2 separate regions of the Homo sapiens genome follow, and region 2 is linked to region 1. Evidence: fine-mapped expression QTL. Tissue or cell type: spleen. Region 1 holds a variant in brackets; the other region holds the start of a gene. All regions are shown on one strand. Distances are from middle to middle.

The links. PIP is the estimated chance that this variant, and not a neighbour inherited with it, causes the effect.
Region 2: TRIB1 starts here. The variant in region 1 is fine-mapped to the expression of TRIB1 in spleen (GTEx, PIP above 0.99).

What each region holds. Positions count from the first base shown.
Region 1 is chr8:126,396,353-126,407,425 of GRCh38, reverse strand. No RefSeq gene overlaps it. Among named protein-coding and RNA genes, the nearest start is that of LRATD2, 160 kb to the left of the region's middle. RefSeq lists an enhancer at 6,632-7,133. The variant G/A (reference allele first, on the strand shown) is at 6,333.
Region 2 is chr8:125,423,823-125,434,895 of GRCh38, reverse strand. TRIB1 (tribbles pseudokinase 1) reads right to left here and starts at 4,538. Exons shown (of 3, transcript NM_025195.4): 1 at 3,634-4,538; 2 at 1,287-1,579. The coding sequence starts at 3,993. RefSeq lists enhancers at 2,776-2,865, 4,336-4,385 and silencers at 3,676-4,015, 4,746-5,365.

The DNA of each region.
Region 1 (11,073 bases):
TACAAAAATTAGCCCGGCATGGTGGTGCACACCTGTAATCCCAGCTATTCGGGAGGCTAGGGCAGGAGAATCGCTTGAACCCAGGAGGCAGAGGCTGCAGTGAGCCAAGATTGCAACACTGCACTCCAACCTGGGCGGCAGAGAGAGATTCTGTCTCGGAAAAAATGAAAATTAAAAATAAATAAAATAAAAAGGTGCCTTTCACGGTCTAGCTCAGAGGATCCCCTTCCTCTGCATTCCTGCAGGGCTCTAGAAAGCCCCATCAAGCATCTTAATAATGGGGTGTGTTATTAAACTTTTTGTGGATACAGGTTCTCCATACACAAAGTGGATTATAAACTTCTCTGCTTCAGACAGGTGAGATGATATAATAGAAAAAATAAAAAGGAACAAAATTTAAACTCAGAAGGGTTGAGTCCTAGCATTTCCACCTAACTTGCTCTAAACATTTGCAGACCTGTTGATATTTAGAGAGCTCCTGTTTAAAGATCCTGGAAGTTAGGCTGCTTTGCAAACTCTCAAGCAACAGAGAAAAAGGTTGACCATTGCTTTTACTTCTTATGTTGCTCATAACCCTCAGAACAGTTTAACACAATGTGAGAACTACTCAATAGAAATGAGTCTTTATTTTTTATTGGCACACTCTAGGAGACACAATGATTTAATCTATTTTTCCCTTCCAAGCTTCTTCAGTGTTTTGGTTTTGCACAGGGCCCATTCTTCTAAAAGGTCCAAGTCCTTTTGCTAAGACTCAAAAAGAAATAGAAATAGAAACTGACAAAGAACCAAAGTCCACAAGGGACGGAAAGAGTCAAACGAGGACAGTGGTGGGAATAGGTTCAAGGAGACACTGCAGGTTTCCTTTGCTGTTGGAATGAGAACCTGGAGATGGTGTAAGAGGCCACATCATTTCATTTGTCATGGAGGAACTGCCCCTCTCAGACTCCTCAGTAGGCTACTCATGTAGATTTAGGCAGCCCCTCAGGAGTGGCTCTTAGGTGAGATTAATAAAAACAAAAGACTGACCCTGAGTCATCAAGAAAAGGCTAAGTAGGCTTCACATTCTCTGTCTAAAATAAAAGGAAAATGTGTTTCATGTTTTAAAGGAATGTCCCTAAAATTAGTATTTCCAAAACATAGGGTTGTCAGTAACTTTGGCAAGTTCTCATTCCCTTCTGGAGATTTGCCTGATACTTCAAAAAAGTTAATCATACTGTGTGTTCTGGTTCCTTCTGTCAAGGACTATTTTCCTGAAATCTTTTGAGGAAGAGTGAGGGCAATTACTTCCCCCTGATGTCTTCTCTGTTTCCTAACAGATCACAAAGAACTGATCACTTCTACGGAAGGAAGAAAGGAAGGAAGGAAGGAAGGAAGGAAGGAAGGAAGGAAGGAAGGAAGGAAGGAAGGAAGGGAAGGAAGGAGGGAGGGGAGGGGAGGGCAGGGGAGGGGAGGGGAGGATATATGTGTGTTTGTACAGACACACACACACACACTCACACAGTACATCCCTTGTACTGGGCTATATGTCACATGCTAATCTAAATGCTTTTATATATAAACTCATTTAATCTTTACAATAACCCTTTGGCGTGTTACTGTGTTTTTCATTTAGAAATAAACCAACTGAAGCAATGGAAAGTTGAGTAGCTCACCCAAGACTGCAGCCTTAGTAAGTAGCAGGGCTGGAAATTGGACCCTCTGCTTCTTGGTGTACTTGAGTGCATCTCTATTTCAGCACTCTGCTCAGGGTAGCATTGTCTCACCAGCCAGTCCATGTGAGCTCTCTGGGTTAGGTGCTGCTTCTTAGCTTTGTATCCTCAGGGGTTTTGTCCAATGAGTTAAAGAGAGGATTTAATGGGTGGCCTGTGGCCTGGACCCCAGTCGATTTCTTCAGAAATTAATTGTTCTTCCTGAATAAAAGATTTAACATTCATCTGCCTAGCCCTTTACCACATGAATAGGGAACCATGCTGGACAGACAGTCCTCCTTTTTACGTCTGTGAAATCTGAATGATAACATGTGTCCTTTCCAATCCAGGGCTATTGTCAGGAGTAAATGGAGAGACCCTTTGAAGAGGATAAAGTGTGTCACAGACGCAAGGCATTTAATAATTAGCAAAACTTTAATACACACACAAAGGCTGCATTATAACATACAAATCAAAACTATGCTGCACAAACCAACTAATAATGCCATACCAATTCATACAGGTAATGCAATTATCTTTTCTAATTTATCCATTACACTGCCATTTGAATAACTTTCCTTTTAAGGCAAAAACCTGTAAGAAACTCCACTTTGCCTTTTTGAGTTAGTTCTAACAAGGACAAAAACAGGAATTAATGTTTAATGAAACCCTACTTTCTACCTGGCCCTGTGCTGTTTGCCTTGGCTCAAAGCACAGTGATGACTCCTGGTATAATCTCAGCTGAGTGACTTAACCTCTATGAACTGAAGTCACCTGAACTGTAAAATAGAAATAACGATAATGTCTACAGCCATGTATAGCACAATGGCACCAGATGTAAGGGGTTGCCGTTCCCATCATGAGAGAGGTGGATCTTTGTTACCAAAGCTTCCTAGCAGATGCCAATATTGTATCTTGTTCTAATAAGAATAGTTTATTATGACAGTTTTCCAATAGATGGAAGTAAAGTGGCTTGAAGAAAGGGAGCCTTTTGCTGATCCCTACACAGGCTCTAAATAGACAAGGAGCAATACCAAGTTCTTAGCTCAGGGTTGTTGTAAGAATTGATTGAGGCCAGGTGTGGAGGCTCACGCCTGTAATCCCAGCACGCTGGGAGGCCGAGGCTGGCAGATCACCTGAGGTCGCACGTTTGAGACCAGCCTGACCAACATGGAGAAATCCCGTCTCTACTAAAAATACAAAATTAGCTGGGTGTGGTGGCGCATGCCTGTAATCCCAGCTACTCAGGAGGCTGAGGCAGGAGAATTTCTCAAACCTGGGAGGTGAAGGTTGCAGTGAGTTGAGATTGTGTCACTGCACTCCAGCTTGAGCAACAAGAGTGAAACTCCATCTCAAATAAAAAAAAAAAAGAATTGATTGAATAAATGTACAGAAAGTACATGGAACAGTGTTAGAACAAATGAAGGAAAAACAAACTAAAGTACTTGGAACATTATTAGAACAAACAAAAAAGTGGTAATAACTATAATTTATCTGCATTTTCTGGCGTAATATCTTTGAGTCCTCATCATAACTTTAAAAAATACTATTTAAAAAAAGCTTTGTTTGTTGAGGGATGATTAATATACGACAAACTGCACTTTTTTTTGTTTGTTTGTTTTTGAGATGAAGTTTTTCCGTTGTTGCCCAGGCTGGAGTGCAGTGGCAAGATCTCAGCTCACTGCAACTTCTGCCTCCTGGGTTCAAGCGGTTCTACTGCCTCAGCCTCCTGAGCAGCTGGGATTACAGGCGCCCACCACCACACCCGGCTAATTTTGTATTTTTAGTAGAGATGGGGTTTCACCATGTTGGACAGGCTGGTCTCGAACTCCTGACCTCAGGTGATCCACCCGCCTCAGCCTCCCAAAGTGCTGTGATTACAGGCGTGAGCCACCGTGCCCAGTCAAACTGCACGTATTTAATGCAAACAATTTGATGAGTGTAGACATATGCACACACCCATGAAACCATCATCACAATTAAGATACTAGACATAGATATATCCATCACTTTTACTAATATCCTTGTGTCTCTTCGTGTGTGTGTTTGTGTGTGTGTTAAGGAAATATTACTTTCAATCCCTGTTTAACAAATAAAAAAAGTGAGGCCCGGAGAGGGTTAAATTGTACCTTAAAAGTCAGCTAGGTAGTGAGTGGCTTAGTTTGGGACCCAAATCCAGGCCTGTCTGCTTAAATCTATACCATTAATTACTGTACTTGGCTGTCTTCCAAGCAAACCATGTCTTCTCTTAGTTGAGAGACGAGCATGGAGAGAGGAAAAATCCCAGCGTGAGATTTCTGAATAGAAGGGAGCAGTTGCCCCAGTCTGAGTTGTGCCTAGAGCCCTTTACTTCCTGCACTGAATCTCTGCTTGATCCTCTTTCCGTTTTCCCCACCTCCCACTACTACAACCTCATCGCATCCTTGACCTTCATTTCTTCTTGGTCCATGGCAAAATGTGTCTGTGCTTGGGGAAGAGCTACAACAGGATAAGTAGCAGGAGCTTCAGGCTTGTCTAGAGGTTAGAAGGGGTTTTGTGCTGATGCTGGCAATGGAAGCCAGACCCGGACCGCATAGATGAATGTAGCAGACATACCCACCTACGCACTCTGATGGTGGCTGGCGAAGGACTAAGTAGTGGAGACATGTTTTGAAGATTTCTTTAATGTTTTCATGTCTTGTATTACAAATCCAAGAGCAATTATTTCTATCCCTCTGCATATTATATCTATTTCTTTTAACATAGAGAATGTTTTAAATTTCTAACCAAAGAGAAAAAGTTGATGGATCAGGAAGATGTACAGGACAAAGACTTTGTTTATAACCTGTGTGATGGTTAATTGTATGTGTCAATGTGACTAGGCTATGATGCTCAGTCGTTTGTTCAAACACTAATCTAGATGTCTCCGTGATGAAGTTATTTTTTAGACGCAATTAACATTTATAGTCAGTAGATTTTTGGGTACACTAGACCTCTTTATCCATAGGGGATACATTTGAAGACCCTCAGTGGATGCCTGAAACCTTGGATAGCGCCAAATCTTATATGTACTGTGTTTTCCCCTATACATGGATACCTAAGATAATGTTTGATTTATAACTTAGGCACAGTAATAGATTAACAATAATAATAAATAATAAACAATATACTATAATAAAAGTTATGTGAATGTGGTCTCTCTCTCTGTCTAAAAAAACTTATTATCCTACTCACAAATTTAACGCCTTTTCCATCTTAATTAAGCAGCTACCACACACTGTGGCCTTAACTTTTGCAGTGAGAGGTACAACAGCAAAACTGGCTACATTTCTTTTTCCTTCTTTTTTTTTTTTTTCTTTTTTTTGCCCAGCTAATTTTTTTCTATTTTTGGTAGAGATGAGGTTTCAACGTGTTCACCAGGATCCTCTCTATCTCCTGACCTCGTGATCTCCCCACCTCGGCCTCCCAAAGTGCTGGGATTACAGGCATGAGCCACCGCGCCGGGCCCTTTTTCCTTCTTTATAATTTCATAGATAGAAGATTTATTCTTATCATAGATCTTAGCAACATCAGCATACAATTTGTTTTCTTACTAAGTCTAGAACTTTCACCTTTTCACTTAAGGAAAGCATTTTCTGGCTTCCCTTTGGCATGTCTGAATTGTCGGCATCACTACCCTTGTGCTTTGGAGACATTATAAAGTAAAATAAGGATGACTTGAACACGAGCGCTGCAATGCCGTGACAACTGATCTGATAACCGAGCTGGCTACTCTGGAACTGTCAGGCAGGTAGCGTATACAACATGGACATTCTGGACAAAAGACAATTCACCTCCCAGGACAGAGCAGGATGGCTCAACATTTCATCACGCTACTCAGAATGGCGCACAATGTACAACTTATGAACTGTTTATTTCTAGACATTTTCATTCAATGTCTTTAGACCATGGTTGACCACAGGTAACTGAAACCACAGAAAGTGAAACTGTGGTTAAGCGGGGATGACTGTAAGCAGGTTACTTTCTGTAATTGGACTCATGCAGTCATTTGAAGGCTTTAAGATCGAAGACTAAGATTTCCCAAAGAAGACGGAATTCTGCTTCTAGACTGCAACACAGAAATTCTGCCTGGGTTCCCAGACTGCAGACTCAAGACTGCAATATCAACTCTTAGGTGAATCTCCATGCCGCTGGCCTGCCCTACACATTAGATTTTAGACTTGCCAGCCTCCACATTTGTGTAAGCCGGTTCTTTAAAATTCTCTCCCTCACGTGTATCTACACACACACACACACACACACACACACACACACACGGTTGACTTTTGAAACAAACCAAAGGTTAGGGGCACCTCCAATGAAGTCAAAAATCCATGTATAACTTTCTTTTTTTTTTTTTTTTTTTTAAGACATAGTCTCGCTCTGTCTCTCAGGCTAGAGTGCCGTAGCATAATCTCGGCTCACTGCAACATACACCTCCCAGGTTCAAGCAATTCTCCTGCCTCAGCCTCCCGAGTAGCTAGCACTACAGGTGTGCACCACCATACCCAGCTGATTTTTGTATTTTTAGTAGAGATGGGGTTTCACCATGTTGGCCAGGCTGGTCTCGATCTCCTGACCTCAAGTGATCTGCCCACCTCACCCTCCCAAAGTGCTGGGATTATA[G/A]GTGTGAGCCACCGCGCCTGGCCAAAAATTCATGTATAACTTTTGATTTTCTCCCAATTTAACCACTAGTAGCCTTCTGCTGACTGAAAGCCTTATCACAAAAAGTTGATTAATGCATATTTTGTGATTAATATATATGTTATATACTGTATTCTTAAGTAAGCTAAAGAAAGGAAAATGTTATTAAGAAGATTATAAGGCAGAGAAAATACCTTTATAGTACCATATTGTATTTATCGATACCCTCAGTTTATATTGTCTGTTTACAAGATGAATGAATTGTCTGCGGTGGCAGCAACTGCAGCTGCGGACCTCAATTTATGGTACATATCAAGCAATTCAATCTTTTCTTGTAATGTCAGGACTTTTCTCTGCTTCTTGGGAGCACTTCCGGCATCGCTACTGGCACTTTGTATGGGTCCCATGGTGTTATTCAAGGTTTACGCTATTGCAGTAAACACGATGAAAAATACGTGAGAAACACTAGAGATCACCTTTTACTGAGATAGGCAATTTACTAGAGAAAGGAACCGCTCATGCGGAGATGATTAGCATCACACAGTGTTTTAAGGGGATACTCGCAACACTTGAGCACATGCAATAGCAACAGGATGTGGCTACAAAATTATTACAGTAGTGTGGTGTATGCCACAGTTAATTTTATGCAGTTGTAATTTAATACTGTATCCTTAGGTTTACTTCCATTTCTCTGGACTGGGAATAGCACCATGTGCAGTCTGTATGTGCATAAGCTTTGATAAATTTTAGTTTTTCTGTTTTTTTTTTTTTTTTCTTAGAGGGAGTCTTGCTCTGTTGCCCAGGCTGAAGTGCAGTGGTGGGATCTCAGCTCACTGCAAGCTCCGCCTTCTGGGTTCATGCTTTTCTCCTGCCAGCTAATTTTTTGTATTTTTAGTAAAGATGGGGTTTTATAGTGTTAGCCAGGATGGTATCCATCTCCTGACTTTGTGATCCACCCGCCTCAGCCTCCCAAAGTGCTGGGATTACAGGCGTGAGCCACCGCACCCGGCTTTTTTTTTTTTTTTTTTTTTTGAGGCTAGTCTCGCTCTGCCGCCCAGGCTGGAGTGCAGTGATGCGATCTCGGCTCACTGCAAGCTCCGCCTCCTGGGTTCACGCCATTCTCCTGCCTCAGCCTCACAAGTAGCTGGGACTACAGGCGCCCGCCACCATGCCTGGCTAATTTTTTGCATTTTTAGTAGAGACGGGGATTCACCGTGTTAGCCAGGATGGTCTCAATCTCCTGACCTCGTGATCCGCCTGCCTCCGCCTCCCAAAGTGCTAAGATTACTGACGTAAGCCACCACGCCGGGCCAAATTTTAGCTTTTTATAATAGACTTGTACATATTTTATGGTAGTAAATGATAAAATAGATGAGTATTTACATATATTTTATGCATTCATGAGACCTAATTTTTTCTTAAGTTTTTGATATTTCTAGGCTACGTTTTGGCAACTTTTTTTGAAATTGTTGCAAGCCTCCAAAAATGTTTGCCATATATTTATTTTTTAAAAATCCACATATAAGTGAACCTGCACAGCTCAAACCCATCTTGTTAAAAGATCAACTGTGTGTGTGTATCTTATTGGTATTGTTTCTCTCTCTCCTTTTTTTATGAGACAGAATCTTGCTCTGTTGCCCAGGCTGGAGTGCAGTGGCGTGATCTTGGCTCACTGCAACCTCCACCTCCTGGGTTCAAGCAATTCTCCTGCCTCAGCCTCCCAAGTGGCTGGGACTACAGGCACTTGCCACCATGCCTGGCTAATTTTATTTATTTATTTATTTATTTATTTTTAGTAGAGACAGGGTTTCACCATGTTGGCCAGGCTGGTCTCGAACTCCTGACCTCAAGTGATCCACCCACCTCGACCTCCCAAAGTGTGGGATTACAAGTGTGAGCCACTGCACCCGGCCTTGGCTTTATTTCTCTAGAGCACCATGACTAATACAACCTGGTAGGTACCTCAAGAGTATGTTCCTTTATCCATCTAGCTTGCACCAGTGACAACAGAAAAGCTGCAGGCATTAGTCAGATAGTATGGCTACACTGCAGTAATAACAAATAAATCCCAAAGTCTCAGTGGCTTAACACTATATAGACTTATTTCTCCCTCACGTCACATTCCATAAAAGGAGGCAAAAACTCAAATGGCTGCAGGGTCCAGACAGCCGAAGTAAATGATTGTGACTTCAGTGATCTTGAGACCAAATGCTTTATTCTAAATTAGGAAGAAATGTTGTCACCTTGTAGGAAAAGGAATGCCTGTGTACATATTTCCACCTTTTAATAGGCAAGAAAAGTTGAGAGTTTTATATGTAAAGTGTCTAATTTTCATATTTTGGTAACATATCCAATTAAAAAAATAAAAGTATGTGTATGCCAAACAAAATCTACTTATTGCAATAGGCCCAGGGGACTCCTGCTGGCAACTTCTGTTTGAAAATGACTACCCAACAATATTTTTTCTTGTTTATCTTGAGCTCAAGCTCAGCTTTGATCAAACTCATAGTTCCAGAAAAAAGCAGTGAAGTCCCGTTTATAAATCACAGAGGACTTCATCTGTCAGCACCACATGTAAAACCAAGAAACTCTAATGATAAGAACATAAAACCAGCCTGCACAGATACTCATATTGCTTACACAAACCAAGAGTGAAAAGACCAGAAAATAAGTGGGACTTCTGAAAAATCACTGTATTACTTGCATAGTAATATGTTTAAAAGTCCTTGCCAGAGACATTTGCATTGGCGTCAGTTAGCAATCCAATATTTTCAATTTGTTTTAATGACATTATTTTAATTAGCTTTGAAGAAGAGTTGTTGAGTTTCAGGAAGACAAGTTGTAGGACTGAACACCTGGGGAGGGAAAGGAGGGAGAGTAGTGTTGTGAATATTAAGCTAACAAGAATAAATGAGCTGGGTGTGGTGGCTCACGCCTGTAATCCCAGCACTTCGTGAGGCAGAGGCAGGTGGATCACCTGAGGTCAGGAGTTCAAGACCAGCCTGACCACCATGGCGAAACCCCGTCTCTACTAAAAATACAAAATTAGCCAGGCGTGGTGGTGCACGTCTGTAATCTCAGCTATTTGGGAGGCTGAGGCAGGAGAATCGCTTGAACCAGCAGGCGGAGGTTGCAGTGAGCTGAGATCACGCCATTACACTCCAGCCTGAGTAACAGAGCGAAACTCTGTCTCAAATAAATAAATAAAAGAATAAATGACTGACGCCTGTAATCCCAGCACTTTGAGAGGCTGAGGCATGTGGATTTCTTGAGCCCAGGAGTTTGAGACCAGCCTGGGCAACATGCTGAAATCCCGTCTCTACAAAAATTAGCTACTCAGAAGGCTAAGATGGGAGAATCACTTGAGCCCAGGAGTTTGAGGCTACAGTGAGCCATGATTATAACACTTCGCTCCAGCCTAGGTGACAGAGTGAGACCCTATCTCAAAAAAAAAGAAAGAAAGAAAGAAAAGAAAAATGAATGAAGCATTATTTGCATGTTTTATGGGTACCAGAATTATACTGTGATCCTCAGAAATCACAGTGGAAAATAGACTTTTATTACTTAGGTCCAGCCAGGCAATAGAAAGCACTTCAAGTATTTTCGAAGAAGGAAATTTACTACATTGAATGTGTTACATAGGAATGAAAGAGTGTGATAAATCAAACGAGAGAGAAGGAACCCAGAAGTTTGACACCCAGAAAAAGCAAGAAGCCACTACTACCTTTGGGTGGAAGGATCCAGGGGACGAGTCTCTCCCGCTACCAGCATGTAAGCTCTGTGAGCATAGAGACCTCATCTGTTTGCTCACTGCCCTGTTGCTCATGCTTAGAACAGTGTGCCTGGCTGCATTCATCTATTCAGGCTGCCCTAGCAAAATGCCACAGATTGAGTGCCTTATACCACAGACATTTATTCTCACGCAGTTCTAGAGGCTAAAAGTCCATGACCAAGGTGCCATCAGGGTTGGTTTCTGGTGAGGCTTCTCTCCTCTTTCTGGCTTGTGGATGGCTGCCTTCTTTCTGTGTCCTCACGTGGCCTCTTTTCACTGTGGGTGGAGAGAGAGAGAGAGAGAGAGAGAGAGAGAGAGAGAGATCTGGTGTTTCCTTCTCTCTCTCTCTCTCTTTTTTTTTTTTTTTTTTTTTTTTTGAGAGGGAGTCTCTCTCTGTCACCCAGGCTGGAATGCAGTGGCGTGATCTCTGCTCACTACAACTTCCGACTCCTGGGTTCAAGCAATTCTCCCGCCTCAGCCTCCTGAGTAGCTGGGATTACAGGCCCCCGCCACCATGCCCAGCTAATTTTTGTATTTTTAGTAGAGACGGGGTGTCACCATGTTGGCCAGGCTGGTCTCCAACTCCTGACCTCAAGTGATCTGCCTGCCTTGGCCTCCCAAAGTGCTGGGATTATAGGCTTGAACCACTGTGCCCAGACTAATTTTTGTATTTTTAGTAGAGACGGGGTTCCACCATGTTGGCCAGGTTGGTCTTGAACTCTTGACTTCAAGAGATCCTCTCGCCTCACCTCAGCCTCCCAAAGTGCTAGGATTACAGATGTGAGCCACCATACCTGGCCTCCTCCTTTTCTTATAAGGACACCAGCCCTAGGAAATTGAGGCTTCACCCTTATGACCTCACTTAACCTTTACTACCTCCAAATAAGCCCTGTCTTCAAATACAGTCACACTGTGGGCTTAGGGCTCCAACACATACATTTTAGGGGGACC
Region 2 (11,073 bases), 970 kb after region 1:
ATGTGCTAACTTCAGTATGTCCTCAGCGTGACCTCCCTGTCGTTATGTAAAATACCCATTGGTTCTGTAAACGGAAAATATGACTCAACCCACACTGTCTGCCCCTGATTGGCTGCTACAGCACTAAAACCCTGCACCTGTGCTGGTTACACGAATAGCGTCAGCCTGACATTGCTTAACCCCCGGGTTGCCAAACCCCATGCCCATGATATTCGCCTGTGCAATGCAGATTTCAAAAGCTAGTAAGGAGGTGTGTAAGGCATGTTTCAGAAAATGCATCACCATATCAAAGGAGCATGTTCCAGGAATTAGAAACTTCTTCATTGCCAACAGTTTGCTTTTCTTTGCTAATCAGTGTGTTCCAATAATTATTGCGAGGTCAGATACAAAGTCATGCTTTATGACAGCTCAACCCTGTACTGTTTCATATGCTCTGGAGTCAAAGGTAAAAATGCACAGGTGAGATAAGCCCACTTCTTACAACAAACTAACTCACTCTCACCTCTACAATGTTACAGCCTTACTGCTTGTAATCTTTCCACAAGGGATGTGGCTGGCTCTTAAAATCAAGTGTGGTCTATCTCATGCGGCTTCCTGAATTCTCTAGCTGAAACCTCAGCTTTGAATCTTAATGCCTCATTACTCTCTTATCAAGCTCATCTTGTTCTTTATGAGGTAAGCTATGATCTATATTTAGCAATCCATCCTAACCAACTTCCATTTACTATTCAATGTGGCTATTTTCTGAAGACGGATCCAAACAAGCTGTCTAAAAAGTCACCAGAGAATGTGATGTTACAGAGAACCTGGACTGGGATGGGAGAGGAATGCTGTGTGAAACAAGAGGGTGGAATTCTGCATATATGACAGTCTCACTAGCTCTGTGAAACCTTCCAGGTACAAAACAGCACTTGGCATAAGCAAAGATTTGAACACTTCCTTCAGAAGGCAATATCGTAAAGGGCAGTTTAATATTTGTACCCCAGACAACTGACCTTTCTGACAACAATGGGGAATGAACCTGATCCTGGGGTAGGAGAGGAAGAGCACCCTGTCAACACTTGCCATCCCATAGAAGCGCCACGGTGTCCCCAGGCCCCGTCCAAGAGAATGCAGAATAAACCAACCTTGGCTGTGACTCCTCAGGAACAGAAGCTCTAAATACTAAATCTGGGACATATGAGCCCTTGACTTTGTTTTGCACCAACACACAGCACCTAACTACATGACCTGCACCTCCGCTTTGGTTCCAAAAGGCCACAGGAGAAGCTGTGGCGGCCGCTCACCTCTCCTCCGTGGAGAAGACGAACTTCCTAAGCTTCAGGTCCCCCAGCACGATGGCTGACTGGTGGCAGTGGGCGACGGCGGAGACAATCTGCTTGAAGAGCCGGGCGGCTTCCTCTTCCCGCAGCCTCTTCCGGCTTCGCACATAGGAGTGCATGTCCCCAAAGTCCTTCTCAAAGAAGACATAGGCCTTGGTTTCCCCAAGGATCACTTCCACAATGCCAGTAATGTTGCTGTGCGATGGCAGCTGGATGTAAGGCCTGATTTTGTCCTGGTAGTGTTTAATGGGAAACACCTGTAGAGAGAAGGGGGGCCCGTTTAGGGGGCTAGAAAAGCAAAGGCAGCCTCCCAAACCCCTGAGGGAGCTGAACAGAAGTTCTCAACCTGTGGGCTTAGGATGTGAGTAAGTTCCATTCACCTACTCCTTTCCTCTGCCACCTTACCTTACGCAGCCCCAGCTGCCCCTGACACCTTTAAAACCAGTAACACCTAAAGCTCTAGACTTGCAAATACCCAAAGGGTTACCCGCTTTCACACAGATGATTTGAAAGAACTGTCTCCTGTACATGTTCCCATCTTCTGTCAGCTCCTGAGAGCTAAGCAAACCCCCCACCCTCTGTGGCCCTTTCCTGTTTGCAGGCCACACTAGTTGAGTGGCTGATAGAAGGAAGCCCCTGGCCTGTCCAGGAGCTGAAAAGCAGTCCCTGGACGTGCATGTGCCTCCTGCAGACCCAAAGTGCTCAACACAGAAAGGGCACAGAATGTGGTGACTCTGCAGCCTCCAAGGGGAAGCAGGGGCCAGAGAACATGCAGAGCTGTCATTAATCAGAAGGAACAGATGACTTGGAGGGGGAGGCTGGGACAATGCAGCCTTAAGCAACCTGCCTACAGTCCGACTCAAGTGTAAGCAGCCTTGAGTTACAATTCTCACAGGAAGGGTATGGAATCCTGCGAATGGGTTTTCCACTTGTTTGTTTATCCCCCCACACCCGACCCCACCCCTAGAAATGAGTAGCATCTCCTCTCTTCTAGGAAGCTGGCTGGTCTCTTTAAAGGCCTTTTGTTCAGTCCAGTTACTCATATCCTAGACTCAACTGGAAACGGTGACACACGGGCTGTCACCATCTGGATTCAGCTATTATCTGCTCAGAGGAACTGGAAGGGGTTGCACAATGGCCAGACTCACCCCACCTCTAAGAGGCCTGGCTGCTCTGGCACCAGCTAGAAAAATCCCCTGCTGCCCCCTCCTCCCACCCCATCCCATCCCATCCCACCACACACACATACATGCTTGTCCCAGAACAGCTCTTAGCCCCAGTCATGGAGAAGAAAAGGTTTTTTTTTCCTCCCTATTAAACTGGGCTTGATCATGCGTCTGAAATTTCATTCGGGTTGGGCAGTAGGTGGCAGCAGCGAGCCCCGGGACGGGGTCGGGGTGTTGGGAGTGTCAGGTGAGTTGCGGAAAACCCAGAAGCGACTTAACTGGGGGGTGATCCTATCTTTCGGGTGAAAAGGAGCGGCCCGAGGGTGCTCTGGGGTGCCTCAAGCAGGGGTGCCACGCTCGCATAAAGTAGACTGTGGGAACGTTCTGCGTCTACCCGCGCAGGAGGAGGACCCGGCGGATCCTGTTTCTAGGAGCTGTGTCTCCTCCTCCTGGATGGGATCCCTATGTTCAAAGGAAAATCGCTGGCTGGAAAATAAAGTGAATCGAAGCGAGGGTTCCTGGCCGGTGTGGGCTTTTCAACATTTCTACTCCGAGCAGATTCCTCCGCCTCGGGTGGATGACTCTGGGACTGCTCCCTTGGGAGGGCGTGTTCTAGTCTCAGCGCGGATTCAATTCGGAATCCCCAAGGCAGGAGCCGGACACAGTCTTCCAGCCCCCTTACCACCTACAACTGAGCCCGGGTGCCGTGCAAGCCCGGCAAGAGAGCTGCCAGCTGCTCCAAGCTCCTAGGAGGCACCCACTAAAGGGCGTCCTTCCAGGACATTGGCGGGGGAGGGGGGGTGGAGAGCGAGGAGAATGAGAGAAGGGGAATGGCATGGCCCTGGAATCCATTTCAATTCCACAACTTATATGGAACGCCACGCGCTACACTGGGCGCTGAGGAAAGGAACAGATAGAGAAAGCCACTGAACACTGCACTTCCTCTAGGCGCCCCCATTATATCACTCCATGGGAAACCCCTCGATCCACAAAAACGTGAACCTGGTCAAATGGCGTCTTATCTGACCCAATCTACTGATCCGCCCTGTGCCCAGCCCAAGCGTTGGCCGGACCCCAAGCACCTTTGCCTACCACCCCGTCCCGCGCCCCCGACCCCAGCCGGGTCCTGGCCCGGGAGCGCCTACCTTGCAGCGCAGCTCGCGTCCAGTGTGGATGCACAGCGCCCGGGACACATGCTCGCGCTCGGCTAGGGGCAGCAGCAGGTAGTCGGCGATGCGGCTGGGCCCCGGCGCGCTCCCGGAGCCTCCGCCGGCCCCCGGAGCGGCAGGCGGGGGCTGCGGGCTGCAGGGCGAGCCGGGGGGGCTGAGGTAGTCCGGGGGGCTGGAGCACTCGGAGAGGCGCGGGCACTTGGCCGCCACAGCCGCCGCGTCGTCGGCGTCCAGCAGGCGTTTGGCCGGGACGCCTCGGGTGGCTGGGAAGAGCAGGGCCGGGCCGCGGGGCTGCGAGGCGCCGCTCATGGCAGAGCGCACCGGACCGACCCGCATCCCGTCCTGGGCCGGGGTGGCCCCGGCTTTTTAAGTCCCGGGATCCGCGCGGGAAGACGCTGCGGGTTTGGTGCCGGCTCCGCGACTTCTTCCAGCCGGCGGGATGGAGTTTGCAGACTGGTCTTGGCTCGGCCCCCACGAGGGGCAAAGCAGGAGCCACTCCCCGGCGCTCGCGTTGCACGCGGGGACCACGCTGGCTGTGCGTCCGGGAGGCGGAGGCCGGCTCGAGTCCCCGGACCCCCGCAGGCAAGGGCTCCCGGAGCCTCGCTGGGGGCGGCCGCCACTATTGTTGCCGAGGCTGCCGATAGTCCGGGAGGCAGAGGCGGCGGCGGCAGCGGTCAGCGATCCCGGGGTCCCGAGCCGCGAGGACAGGATTCAGCAGGCTCGGCGGAGCCACGAAGCAAATGCACTTCCCAAAGCGATGAGTCTCCAGCAAAAGCCGGGGGAACTTTTTCGCGGCGCTCGGGATCCTGAGCGCTCCTGGGCTCCGGGCGTGTATGAGAGCGAGCGAGACGCGCTCAGAGAGAGTGACTGTGAGTGAGTGTGAGCGCTGCACCGATCCCGGCCAGTGCACTCCTCCTTCTCCTTTTCCTCCACCTCCTCCGCCTCCTGGTGACTCACGCTGTATACACACACACTCACAGGCCGGGCTGTGTAAACAGTTGGGAAGCCGGGTTGTGCAATGAGGTGGCTGCGACGACTCCGGCCCCGCCGCCCAGCGAGCAGTCTCCGGAGCGGAGGGAGGAGACTGGGGGAAGGGGAGAGGGAGTAGGAGGTGGGGGGAATGGGGGTGGACTTAGGGCTGGGGATGCTCCGGGCAGCGCGCGCTCGGGCGCAGGTGGTGCGTCCCGGGCCGGCCTGGACGCGCGCACACGCCCCCAGGGCTGGGAGGGGCTGGGCAGGAGGCGGCGCGCGCGCCCTCCCGCAGGCCCCCAGCTCAGCGGAGAAGCCGAAGGAGGGGGCGGAGGAAAAGTTCCCGTGACGTAAGGGCCCGGGGAAGTGGGCGGGAGGGACGGGGCTGCGGGGAGCGAAGCGACCGCTGATTGGTGCGCGCGCCTCATTCACAGTAAGCACAATGGGCTGCGGGCGCGAGGCGGGAGCGCGCACCACGGTTCTCTGCACCCGCCGCTCGCTGCAGCCCCGCGGCGACGCCTTTCGCCCCGGGGATCCCCCCACCGCCCAGCGCCTGGGGAGCTCCGGTTGGAGCCGTGGGCGCCGCCGAGGCCCGGCTGCAGCCGGAGGAAGGAGGGGGATAGGGAGGTGATGAATTCCAGAATCAGTCATTCACCCCCACGCGGTAGTTCCGGGGAAGACCTGTGCGTGGTAGTGGATGTGGCTTTTTTTTTTCCCTTTTCCTGCCCCCTCCCAGCTCTAATCCCCAGCGTCTGTTCGCTTCCACAAATAGAACCTTCTGTTGGAGGAAATAAAAGCAAACACTGGGCCTTCTGCGCTGCCTCCACCTCCACGCCCCCCCAACCCCCCCGCGCCTGCCGCCCGCCCGGATTGCACGGAAATAGCTTCTCCAGGCTCCCGGGCCGCCCCTTCGCGGTGACTCGCAGAAAGAGCTTCCTGAGCCAGGGCCGGTGGGAAACAAAGGATGTGGGGAGCGGGCGGAAGGGGCCCACGTGGCTGCCGCCGGATTCCTACTCCCTCCCCAGCCTCCACACGCGCCGCAGGGTCTAGGGCCTGAGTGCCAACCTGGGTAGGTGGGTAGGCTGGTGGAAGTCATTCTGGCCACTGCCAGAGATACCGCCTGCACCCGGGCAGCCCTGCCTGGTGGTGCGCATGCATTCATTCCGTGTGATTTGGAAGAGCATCAAAGTTGCGCGTGAAACAACTTGGAATCTGTCATTTTTCTTTCTTGAGTGAACCAGGTCAGTTTGGAGTCCCTGGGCACCCAACAATATAACTATTATTAGAGAGCCCTTACTTGTCCTTCTGCTAAATACTTAATTTTCTAAAACCAGGTCGAGCCCCAGGAATAAATCATTTTCCTTATTAATTCTCCATTCATTCAACAAATACTAATTAAGCATCTACCAAGAGCTAAACGCTGGGAATTAGAAGGTGAAAATTAAAATAATAATAATAGCTAACATGAATCGAGGCCTACAATGTGTCGGACACTGTTCTTAGCACTTTATATGTATTACTTCAGTTTTCCAACCACACTATGGGGTTATTTTTTGCCCCATTTCACAGGGAAGAAACTGAAGCCTTAGAAGGATGAAGTTAGGCCAAGCGTGGTGGCTCACGCCTGTAATCCCAGCACTTTGGGAGGCTGAGGTGGGCAGATCACCTGAGGTCAGGAGTTCAAGACCAATCTGGCCAACATGGTGAAACCCCGTCTCTACTACAAGTACAAAAATTAGCTGGGTGTGGTGGCGCGCGCCTGTAATCCCAGCTGCTGGGGAGGCTGAGGTGGGAGAATCACTTGAACCTGGGAGACAGAGGTTGCAGTGAGCCGAGATCGTGCCACTGCACTCCAGCCTTGGGGAGAAAGCAAGACTTAGTCTCAAAAAATAAAAAATAATAATAATAATAATTTAAAAAAAGAACGAAAGATGAAGTTACTTGCTGCGGTTAAGTAGCTCATAAGGGGTGGTGCGGTCAAGCTCCTAAGCATTTATGGCGACTGGAAGGAGAGATTACAATTTGTAGGGGAAAACAGGAGTTAGGGAGGACTCTAGAAGGCATTTGACCTGGGAGATGTGCAGGGACTGTGAGGGAGTTGCTCAAGGGAGAGTATGAATGGTGGGAGGCCGGGCCAGACAAGGGGTGTGCGGAAGGGCAGGGCTAGCAGGCCAGAGAAACTACAAGGGTGGTGGGAGCTGAGCCTGCAGAGGTCTCCTGAGACAGTGTTGGGAAGGGCTTGAAAGCCATGTTGCACTTGGTCCTGTGCCCAGAGGAGAGCCCACCGAAGAGTTAGTTAGTTAGTTTGTTTGTTTGTTTGTTTGTTTGTTTGTTTTGAGACAGAGTCTCCCTCCATCGCCTAAGCTAGAGTGCAGTGACCCAATCTCGGCCCACTGCAACCTCTGCCTCCCGGGTTCAAGTGATTCTCCTGCCTCAGCCTCCCAGTAGCTGGGATTACAGGCGCCCGCCACCATGCCTGGGTAATTTTTTATTTGTAGTAGAGACGAGGTTTCACCATGTTGGCCAGGCCGGTCTTGAACTCCTGACTTTAAGTGATCCACCCACCTCAGCCTCCCAAAGTGCTGGGATTACAGGCTTGAGCCACCACGCCCGGCCCCACCTACATTTTTTTTGTCTTTGAAGATTATTCTGTGCCAGAATGTAAGATCCACTGAGCTGCCAGCACTTGAATGGCAAACTCAGCATGGCCCCTGAGCATCTTCCTCCCAGGTGTGTGCCTCCTTCTCTGCCTCTTCTGAGAGACAGGCATGCCACCATCCACCCAGCTCCGCCCACCCAGGGGCCAGGATCACAGGCACTCATCGTGGGTTCCCCTTTGAATCTGCCTTTTTCCTTTCTCCCACAGCCCACCCTAGACCTGTGAGCTCTCAGTGCCGGGCCCTACCCCGCACTGTTCAGCTCCCTGGGGCTGGCCCTCACCAGCTCTACTTCCCAGGCTCACTTGCCCATTGGCTTCCAGCCCAGTTTGCCCAGTGGGAGGCCCGGGAGGGAGATTAGAAGGCAGGAGGAAGAAGAGAATGCCCAGGCTACTATTTGCTTCAGGCAGCTGGCCACACCTCCTCTGGGGCTCCAGAGGAGACAGCCACTCCGCATGGCTGCTGCGATGTGCTCCCCAGATCCCGCTGCCCAACTGGAGGATCTGTTTCCCTGGCTGCTGGGAGTGCATATCAGGAGCTGTTTTGGAAATTGCCTTGACTGAGAAGAGCCACTTTGCCGGAGGTCACACTCCCTTCCCAAGGGTCCACATCCAGTGACTGCTGATCATGGAAGAATAAAGGTCCCCTTGTCCCAACTTGGGCCACCTGTCCAAGGCATCCCAGCTTCAGAGCTCCCAGATTTAGGCCTTCCTAAAATTGCATCACAGCCCAGCTTTTTCCTCTGCCCAATCCTGTTCCTTCCTCCCCCTCTTCCCACAGAATCCTCTTGCAGGCTGGCCTGCATCTCAGAGTCAGCTTCCTGGGGAGTTCAACCTGTGGCACCCCTTCTTCATGGTCCGAGCTCACTCCAGGGACTCTGGCTTCTGGGAGCAGGTGAAACCACCTTTGTCCCTCCAGCCGTAGGGTGGCAGCAGCTTCCAGATGTTGCTAATCTCTGGGTGGCCCCCAGCACCATGTTTTGTTCTGTTTTGTTTCTGCCCTTTCTATGCCTTTGTAACTAGTTTTCTACATAAATTCTATCCACTGAACTTCCTGGCCTGAGTTCCATTTTCCTGCCCAGACCCTGTCTAATAGAAACCTTCTCCCTTTCCCACGTTCGGCCCTCTCCCCACTCCCATAATCCTAGTTCACAACCTTCCCCTGGATTCCTGCAGTAAGTTCTCAATGGAGCCACTCATTCATCCCTTCAACAAACATTGAGCCCCTACTTGGTGTCAGCACCCACTAAGTGCTGGAGACACAGTGATGCACAAAACACAGTATGTCGTGTATCCCCTTGATCCATCCCCCACACAGCTGTGGAGTCACTTTCCTAAAATCCAAATGTGATCACGCAAGGCACTGACCTAAAACCTTGCAGGGACCCCACCCCCAGATAAAATCCAAACACCACAGTATGGAAAAGTAGGCCCTCTTCCAAGCCCCATTTCCCTTCCGAGCCTCACCTTCCAGGCCCACTTCCCTTCCAAGCCTCACCTTTCTTGCCTCCTCCCCTCTGTCCTACCCATGCCAGCTCCTGGCAGGGCCCCAAACTGATCTATCTGCCAATTCACATCTCTGCACTTCAGCCTGCGCTGTTCCCTCCCACTGGAATTCCCTCTCTTCCTTTTCCAAGGAAAGGAACTCTTACTCATCCTTCAAAACACCATCCGGATTTCCCCAGCGCCTGCACTCAGATCTCAGTGTCCTACCAAATGCTGTCGAGTCCTCTGTCCAACTATCTCTCGTGACCCTTTCCACGCAACTGTGTTCCCAGAGGGCAGGGGTTGTGTCTTGTTCATTCGTGTTCATCCAGCCCCCAGCCCAGTGTCCGTTATAAAAGAGGGACTTAGGCCAAGCACAGTGGCTCACGCCTATAATCCCAGCACTCTGGAAAGGCCGGGCAGGTGGATCACTTGAGGTCGGGAGTTTGAGACCAGCCTGGCCAACATGGTGAAATCCCGTCTTCACTAAAAATACAAAAATTAGCCAAGCGTGGTGGCAGGCACCTGTAGTCCCAGCTACTCTGGAGGCTGGAGCACGAGAATCGCTTGAACCCGGGGAGCACAGGTTGTGGTGAGCTGAGATTGTGCCACTGCACTCCAGCCTGGGCAACAGAGCAAGACTCCATCTCAAAAAAAAAAAAAAAAAGAGGGGGCTTAGTAAGTGTCAACCAAATAAATGCACTCCAGGGCAGAGGGTCACCCACAAGGAGAGCCTGAGATGACAGATGGAGAGGAAACACTGGACTTCAGACAGAGACAGGGGCTGGAGAGCAGGGCACAGATTTCGGAGTTAGACGTCTGGCCCTGGAGAGGTAATGGGAGGTGGAGTGTCGGGGAAAGCAGGGGCTTGTGGGGCTCCCAGCCTGCATGCCGGGGAAGATGAACATGGACCTTTGGCAAGGCCTGAGATAAGGCAGGCCGAGGCACAAGGCAGCTAAAATTGTCTTGATTTCTTTGCGGAGGGCTTCCCTACTGGTAAAATCTGGACTGAAATTCCCTCAGACTTTTCAGATACTCACTTGAGGAAGCCAGTGGCTCTTAATGAGCCTCGGTTGTCTCACCTGTGAAATGGGCGTAATAAAGGCCTGGTTTTCCTCTCCTACACAGTTTAGTTTTGTTTAGTTTTGTTGTGGAGATGGGGTTTCATCATGTTGCCCAGGTTGGTCTCGAACTCCTGGGCTCAAGCAGTCCTCCAGCCTCAGCCTCCTAAAGTGCTGGGATTACAGGTGCGAGCCACTGAGCCTGGCCTCCTCCCCTACACAGTTCTTAATGGAAATGAGGAAGTATAAATATGTGGAAAGTACTTTTGGATCATCCAGCCAGACCCAAATGTGGGAGATTATCAGGTATGGGTGTGCCTTGATTTTGAACAGTATTCATTTAGTCAACAAATATTCATTAAGGACTTGCTATATGTGAGAATTGAAAAAAAAAACAAAAAGACCGTACTATGAAACTCCAAATCGACAAATACAAATATCTAAATAAATAGGATGGTAATTAGGAAGTCATTCTTCCCATATTAAAGGGTCTCTACCAAGCGATGCCATCCACAAGCTCCTCTGGTGCATTTATGATGAGGCCTGAAAGCCAGAATCACCACTGATCGTGCATGCGTGTGTGTCCTGCGTAGCCTCGGCATGATGCTCAGCTTGATGCTGGATGCTCAGTACATGGTCAGCTGTGAGAAAATTGATTTAACTCTGACTTTTCAGGAGCTCACATATTACATAACATGGGGAAACCTGTATCGATTTTTTTGGACAAGGTTAGGCTGCTGATGACCTCTGGCTTGATTCATTTTCATTCATGCCAAGGTAGATGCATGGCAGCAACGTTAGGAAGGCTCTGAGTGTTCTACCCATTCTAAAATGGAAATCCTTAGAGGCCAGGGCCCCCAGTTTCCATCTCCCTGTCTCACGGCACATGAGGCTTTGTAGCCACACACAGAGGGTATGCGTCCAGTGCATTATGCTCCCTGACCTTACATTCTAAAAAATAAAATGAATTAAAAAGTTTGGGGGCTGGGCGCAGTGGCCCACTCCTATAATCCCAGCACTTTGGGAGGCTGAGGCAGGCAGATCACTTGAGGACAGGAGTTCGAGACCAGCCTGGACAACATGGCGAAAGCCCATCTCTACTAAAAATACAAAAACATTAGCCGGGCGTGGTGGTGCATGCCTGTTGTTCCAGCTACTCAGGAGGCTGGGGCATGAGAATCATTTGAACCTGGGAGGCAGAGATTACAGTGATCCAAGATTGCACCACTACACTCCAGCCTGGGT